Homo sapiens: one gene and its partner. The protein of the gene in region 1 interacts with the protein of each later gene in a pairwise test. Each region holds a gene or a part of one and is shown in the gene's direction. Other genes may lie near its edges. The genes, in order: KIF24 and EXOSC7.

Region 1 (3,819 bases):
GCTGGTCTTGAACTCCTGGCCTCAAGTGATCCTCCCACCTCAGCTTCCCAAAGCACTGGGATTACAGGTGAGAGCCACTCTGCCCTGCCCAAACTAGAGCTTTTTAAAAAAACATGCATGTCTTTTTGCTCCTTGAACTTGAAACTATGGGCCTTTTGTTCATATGAGTCATCCTAGAGCCCTGAACAATTTTAAAAAGGACCAAACATTTTCTATCCTCTTTGATCAGCTTTATATGATTAGGTTATTGATATCCAACAACTAAAGATTTTAACACAAAACCCTTATTAAAATGATGCATTAGGCCAGGCACAGTGGCTCACACCTCTAATCCCAGCACTTTGGGAGGCCAAGGCGGGTGGATCACCTGAGGTCAGGAGTTCAAGGTCAGCCTGGCCAACATGGCTAAACCCCATCTCTACTAAAAATACAAAAATTAGCAGAGCGTCATGGCAGGTGCCTGCAGTCCCAGCTATTCTAGAGGCTGAGGTAGGAAAATCGCTTGAACCCAGGAGGCAGAGGTTGCAGTGAGCCAAGATTGTGCCACTGCACTCCAGCCTGGGTGACACAATGAAACTCTGTCTCAAAAAAAAAAAAAAGCATTAAAAATTTTCATTTTTGATGAGCACAGTGGCTCATGCCTGCAATCCTGGCATTTTGGGAGGCCAAGGCAGGCAGATTGCTTGAGCCCAGGAGTTCGAGGCCAGCCTGGGCAACATGGTGAGACCCTGTTTCTACAAAAATACAAAAATTAGCCAGACATGATGGTGTGCACCTGTAGTTCCAGCTACTATTGGCTGAAGTGGGAGGATGGCTTCAGCCCAGGAGGTTGAGGCTTCAGTGAGCTATGCTCGCACCACTGCACTCCAGTCTGGGTGATAGAGCAAGACCCTGTCTCAAAACAAAAAATTCCCTTTTCTTGTGAAAAATCAAACATATGCAAAAGAAGAAAAAAATAGAACACTGAATCCCAATATGTCCATCATCCAATTTCTTTTTCTTTTTTCTTTTTTTTTTTTTTTTTTTCAGACAGAGTCTTGCTCTGTTGCCCAGGCTGGAATGCAATGGCACTATCTCACCTGTGAACTCCACCTCCTGGGTTTAAGTGAGCATGCCCAGCTAAGTTTTATATTTTTAGTAGAGATGGGGTTTCACCATGTTGGCCAGGCTGGTCTCGAACTCCTGACCTCAAGTGATCTGCCCGCCTCAGCCTCTCGAAGTGCTAGGATTACAGGCGTGAGCCACCGCACCTGGCCCGTCATCCAGTTTCAATGATTGTCACGATTTTCCCACAGTACCTCAAAATGGTACATTTCATTTATTCTGTCATTTATTTATTCCATCTGCAGTTTCATGCAAAAATGATGCATTTTAAAGTCCCTAAATGTTGGTTAAGAAAATAAAATTTGCTTTAAAACATGCCATAAAATTAGTGCTTTATGCATTCATTATATTAGAAAATTATTTGCTGGTTTTTTTTTTTTTAAACCAATTCAGATCCCAGTAAAAAAATTATTCTCCAGGCTGAGCGTGATGACTGATGCTTGTAATCCCAGCACTTTGACAGGCCAAAATGGGAGGATTGCTTGAGGCCATAAGTTGAAGACCAGCCTGGGCAAGATAGTGGGACCCTGTCCCTACAAAAATTACAAAAATTAGCCAGCTGCGGTGTTGTATGCTATAGTCCTAGCTACTTAGGAGGCTGAGGTAGAATTTCTTGAACCCTGGAGGTTGAGGCTGCAATGAGCCATGGCTGTGCCACTGTACTCCAGTCTGGGTGACAGAGTGAGATCCTATCTCAAAAAAAATTTTTTTTCAGCAGCCAGTTGGAGGGCTAAGGAAATCAGAATTGATATGAAACAATTGTATAAAATAGTATTCTATATATGATCTCTTAGGGGTTTTTTGTTTGTTGGTTGGTTTTTTGTTGTTGTTCTGTTATTTGTGTTTTTGCAAGGAAAAGGGCGGAGCAGGGTGGGGATGGAGATAGAAGAACTTTCTCAGGGTTGACACTTTACTTTGTAACTTTAAGAAATATATTATGCCTAATATACAGCAAAATGTACCAATACTTTTTTTTTTTTTGAGACAGAATCTGGCTCTGTCGCCCAGGCTGGAGTGCAGTGGCGCAATCTCGGCTCACTGCAAGCTCTGCCTCCCGGGTTCACGCCATTCTCCTGCCTCAGCCTCCCAAGTAGCTGGGATTACAGGCGCACGCCACTATGCCTGGCTAATTTTTTGTATTTTTAGTAGAGATGGGGTTTCACCGTGTTAGCCAGGATGGTCTTGATCTCCTGACATCGTGATCCGCCCACCTCGGCCTCTCAAAGTGCTGGGATTACAGGCGTAAGCCACCGCGCCCGGCTAAAAGGTACCAATACTTTGACCTGTTAAGTAATCTTGTCCTATTATTAAAAATTAAAAGCCTGTTTATAAACATATTAGACAGAACACTTCAGAGAAACAGAATCCTTGGACTGAGATGGAGAAAATCAGAGTTTGTGTTCGAAAACGCCCCCTGGGCATGAGGGAGGTACGTCGTGGAGAAATTAATATTATTACTGTAGAAGACAAAGAAACTCTACTTGTGCATGAGAAGAAAGAAGCAGTTGACCTCACTCAATATATTCTGCAGGTATGATGTTTTCGTTTTATGTTTGGAACTAATATTATCAAGTATGTCATTTTTTTTTGCTTTTTGTTTGAGTGGTGGCATACAAGTTTCTGTTAGAACACTGAAAATCAAGTTTCTGGTTCGGGTGTTGACATTCATTCCTGATGTGACACTGTATTAAGTCATTGATATCCAGGGCCTTCATTTTTTCAAAAGACGGTGCAATAGGGGATACAAAAACAATTTCTCTTGTGCAGTGGAGCTACATCATATATTCACTTAACATGCTTTGTGTGAATTTAATTATACATATTCAGCAAAAAAAAGGAGGAATGAAGGAATAAAAATAATTTAAATAATGAAGTGGGGCCAGGTGTGGTGGCTCACGCCTATAATCCCAGTGCTTTGGGAGGCTGCAGTGGGAGGATCACTTGAGCCCAAGAGTTTGAGACCACCCTGGGCACCATAGCGAGATCCTGTCTCTCCAGAAAAGATCTTAAAACTAGCCCAGCATGGTGGTGTGTACCTGTAGTCTTAACTACTCAGGAGGCTGAGGCAGGAGGATCACTTGAGCCCAGGAGTTCTGCATTACAGTGAGCTATGATTGCACCACTGCACTCCAGCCTGGGCAACAGAGGGAGGATCTGCCTCTAAAAGAATATAAAAATAAAAAACAAATAAATAATTAAGTAGTTGTCAACAGGACCAGTCACTGAATATATGACTATGAGATGTCACACAGTTGATTTCCATTCTTGCTTGCATCTCACAGTGTGAACTTCTCATTCTGCTGACTTTGAGACTTGGGTTTAATGATGGACAATATCTTTTTGGGCAACAGGACCGACAATTGCCAGCCACGTGCTTATTTTGATTCTCAGCTGTCTTGGGCTTATACTTAATTGGCGAAAATTGGGCTCTGAGCAGACCACTTTATACAGGGTAGATTGCAGTGGGTAAATAAAATCCAGAGATATGATTTCACATCTAACATATAAGGGTTTAAATAAAACACTAATAACTCAGCCATGTAAATAATGTTCACTGCCTGCTAGAGTGATTATGAAGAGTCCAAGGAGAAAGAGTTTGGTATTGAAAGAAACTTATTCCAAGCTGAAGGTACCTTGCAATAATTCTTTAGTCTCATAGGGAAACAGCAAACTCCACAGATGGAAAGAATCATCATTTAGGTACTCCTAAAATTG
Region 2 (3,819 bases), on another chromosome or scaffold:
AACGTCTTCATAAGGGCTTATTAATGTTGGCCCAAAATATGCCATATGTATAGAGGAGCAAAACACAATTTACACCATCCAAATAAAGGTCAGGATGCAGGTGAATGAGCCTACCATGGAATCTCAACTGATTCAGTTCTGAAATCTCCTAAACTTTTGTTGCGTTGGTTATAGAGTGCCGGCAGTGCACCTTAAGCAGTGCCTGCCTGAACTCCTGTTGCTTGTATAGTCCTAGTCATTTTGTGTTTTACTTTTCACCTTTGGTCCAGTAACGTCCATTTCAGCTTCTGATGTCACTTTCCCTTCAGCCTTTGGTTCTTTTACTATTTCAGGGAATATTTCATCTTGTTTTGGTGATAGTTAGAAGCAGTTGAAATTAACCTCACGATGTGTTGAGGATTCAGTTGCTAGTAATGGTAACCAACACATCGGCTCAAGCAAAACAGTATGGATTACAAGGCTGCAAGTGTTTCTCCAGGAATCCTAATCTCTGCTGGTTTTTTTTTTCCCCCTCTTTGCTTTGTTTTTGTCTCCCTACAGATTGGTTTTCTATTTCTTGGGCCAGTGGTAGAAAAAATGTGGTTCCTTCCCAGTTCCTCTGTAAAAGAGACCATTCCTTCTCGTTCAGTTCTGAACTCATGTTTCCAAGAGAAAGAAACTCTAGTTCTTTTAGGGGGTTGAGGGAAAGGATGGACAGAATAATTAGGCTCAAACATGGCCACTAGAGGATGTGTCACACTTGGGAGAAGTCAGTTTGTGAGAAGGGAGGGTGGATCATTTTAGTTATTGGCAGAAAATGGAACCCTCTTCAGGTAGTTCAGGAGACTTTTATGATGGGACTCTAGAGCAGTATGGGGGGGGTTTCAGGGAACCAATAAGAGATGTTGAGGAGCCCCAAGACAACTACTGGGAGTGGCTACTGCCCCTATTCCAAAGGGGCCAGGGGAGGAAACAGTATTACCACATTTCAGTGATAGCTGGAACTGTGGAGGAAGGGCTGCCCAACATAAGTCATAGTCTTCGATAGATGCAGGCACTATCAGAAATGTGGCCACTAGATTGGGGGTGAGGGGCACCCTCTGATCTGGTATCTTCCACTGGACAAACCCAACCAGAAGCCAGCAAAGGGAGTCTAGGTGATACAATTTGAGTCAACCTGGTGAACAGATCCCCTCTCCCAGGGGAGAACAGAGAATCAAAAAGGTGGATTAAATCGGTATTTTGATAAATAATTTGATTGGTTTCTGTTAGGTTCTCTTTCAGTCTTTGAAGGCTATATCCCATTCTTATTAGGTACATATTATAATTTTTATTTCATTGAATATTTACAACAGTTCTGAAGGTAAATGTTATCTCTATAGATGAGGAACTGAGCTCGGGCAGGTTGAGTCGCTTGTCAAGGTGACACAGTAATTGAGTGGTGGCACTGGGATTTAAATCCAGACCTGTCTGATTGCAAAGCCCATACTTGACTCTGAGGCCACCTTCCTGCTGCAGTGAAAGTCATTTCTTCCATTTCCTCAGTAGGGATCCAGAGATCAAGGCAGGAGAGAATCTTTGCTTCCTCTACCTCCTTTTCTTTCCCCCTTTCTCTAAAAGCTTGTGGGGAAACTGGAAGGGAAAGAGAAAGTTCTAATTGACACCTCCCACTCCCCAGTTTTTCTAGAGCTTAAATAGTATATGGCATATACTGCTGTATTGTTTTGGTTGCATTTTTCCCACATTGAGTATAAGTTCCTTTAGAACCCTATATTGCATTTCTTTGTATAGCTTTTGTCTTACTAGTATCATAAACGATTTACTCTGCCCATACCATGCAGAACTTGGAGCAGACTTCAGAATTTTTAGAATCTAGGATTTATCCTCTTTTCTGGCTTACTGGGCTAGATGTGTGTTTTCCTCATCCATGAGAAGCCATTGCTAACCTCCCTCTTAGCCCAGGGATTCTGAAGCCTTGAAGTGCATTTTACTCACCTACAAAATACAGATTCTGAGGCTTTACCCCAACATTCTGAATCAGACTCTCTGGGGCTGGGGCCTGAGAATGGACATTATCATAAAGTGTTGGGAAATTTGGGGGCAGCCACCAGACATTGGCCCATGGGTAAGCCACTGACCAGAGATAAAGAAATCTCTGCTCTCTCCTGCTGAAGTCATATGGTTTCCTGCCTCTTTTTGAATGAGGCTTTGGAGTCAGACTGAGCAGGCACCTTCACCATTTACAATAAGTGGTTTTACTTGCATAACTGAACCTGCTTCCCTTGTGTAAAATGGGGACTTATGCACCTGGAAGTAGAATGGGGTTATGAGGAATGATGAGATAAGAGATGTCAAGCACTTGGGCTGTGGTTAACACAGAAAAAATGCTGGCTCCCTTTCAAGTTTGTTTTTCCATCAGAAGTGTGACTTTGTCTTAAACCATCCACACTAGATCCCCAGCCTTCATAGTGACCTCATTAAAGATTCAGCCTGTGGCTCCTGAGAATTAAACCTCTTTTGATTTGAAGGAATCGGGATTTTTCAATTATCTCAAGAAAAGGGATAGGCCAGGTGCAGTGGCTCACACCTGTAATCCCAGCCCTTTGGGAGGCTGAGGTGGGAGGATCACCAGAGGCCAGGAGTTGGCATCCAGTCTGGGCAACATAGCAACACCCTATCTCTAAAAAAAATTAGGTGTGTGGTGGTGTGTGCCTGTAGGCCTAGCTGCTTGGGAGGCTGAGGCCAGAGGATCGCTTGAGCCCAGGAGTTGGAGATTTCACTCCAGCCTGGGTGACAGAGAGATACTCTGTCTCTTAAAAGAAAGAAAAAGAAAAAAGAGAAGGGGGATCTGTGGCAAGAGCTGGAAAGTCCCCAGACAGCTCTGAGGTACCGCCTCTCATGGGCTCCGTGGATTATCTCATGGCCTGTGTGGCTGTCTGTCTTTATCTCTAGTGACATCTCTGCTTTTCTCTGCCAAGATTTATCCCTTCTCTGCAGCCACTTGCTGTCCAGCTTCCCTTCTTTGTAGAATCTGCCTCTGCCCAATACCTTTACTTTCGTGTGGCCTCTCTGGGCTCCTCCATATCATGACCTGTCAGCTCCTCTTTAACTCCTTTCTTCTCTCAAGTGTTTCTCAGATCAGAGACCAGATTGCAATGAGAGAATCAGTTTGGTCTGGTAGTATTTCACGCCAAAAAGAGTTGGTCACCCTTTGGATTATATGCCTTTGGTTCAGGCACCTACCCCTGGTCCTGGCTGTTGGGGATGGATGGTGACTGTTATGTGGCCTTTACAGGGCTTTAGGCACAATAAAGCTTTCCCAGGTTCAGCCTACTGAGTGCTATGGCTATGACCTGGACATTAAACTGGCCCTCATAGGTTCAGACCTGGCCATGGCAATTGACGAACCCTACCACAGGGCTCTTGGAACCCTGTGAAAGCCATTTTATTGTATGTTCTTGGCTGTTGAAGGGAGTTGTAGCCCAGCTGATGGCTTCCATTTCTTTTCTGTGGATCTTGCTTTCATCATAAGCATTGTTTAGGGGTATAGCATGGAAGAGGGAGATCAGGGCCTCAGCCTGGTTTTCAACTATGAGATTGAGCAGTCAGTATTCGGTTGCTCAGTCTGGCCATGACAGAATTGGAGCCAGCCCTCAGGACTCTTGATTTTTAGCTCTCTGCCCTTTCTGTTTACAGACCCATGGCACAGAAAGCCTTATGCCCAGACACTGCAGGATGCAGAGTTATGGAGCCATATCCTTTCAGAGGAATGCCTGGCTACTCAACAGGGTTGGAAAGTCAAACAAGGATCAACACCTACTTTTGCCTGCTGTGTGATGG

Evidence for each region.
Region 2: the proteins of KIF24 (region 1) and EXOSC7 interact in a two-hybrid assay, tested with the Homo sapiens proteins (one large-scale study listed by BioGRID).

Annotation. Positions count from the first base shown.
Region 1 is NC_000009.12:34,305,068-34,308,886, reverse strand, and holds part of KIF24 (kinesin-like protein KIF24), read left to right. Parts: intron 1-2,445; coding exon 2,446-2,635; intron 2,636-3,819. UniProt on the Homo sapiens protein: Microtubule-dependent motor protein that acts as a negative regulator of ciliogenesis by mediating recruitment of CCP110 to mother centriole in cycling cells, leading to restrict nucleation of cilia at centrioles.
Region 2 is NC_000003.12:44,979,092-44,982,910, forward strand, and holds part of EXOSC7 (exosome complex component RRP42), read left to right. Parts: intron 1-3,819. UniProt on the Homo sapiens protein: Non-catalytic component of the RNA exosome complex which has 3'->5' exoribonuclease activity and participates in a multitude of cellular RNA processing and degradation events.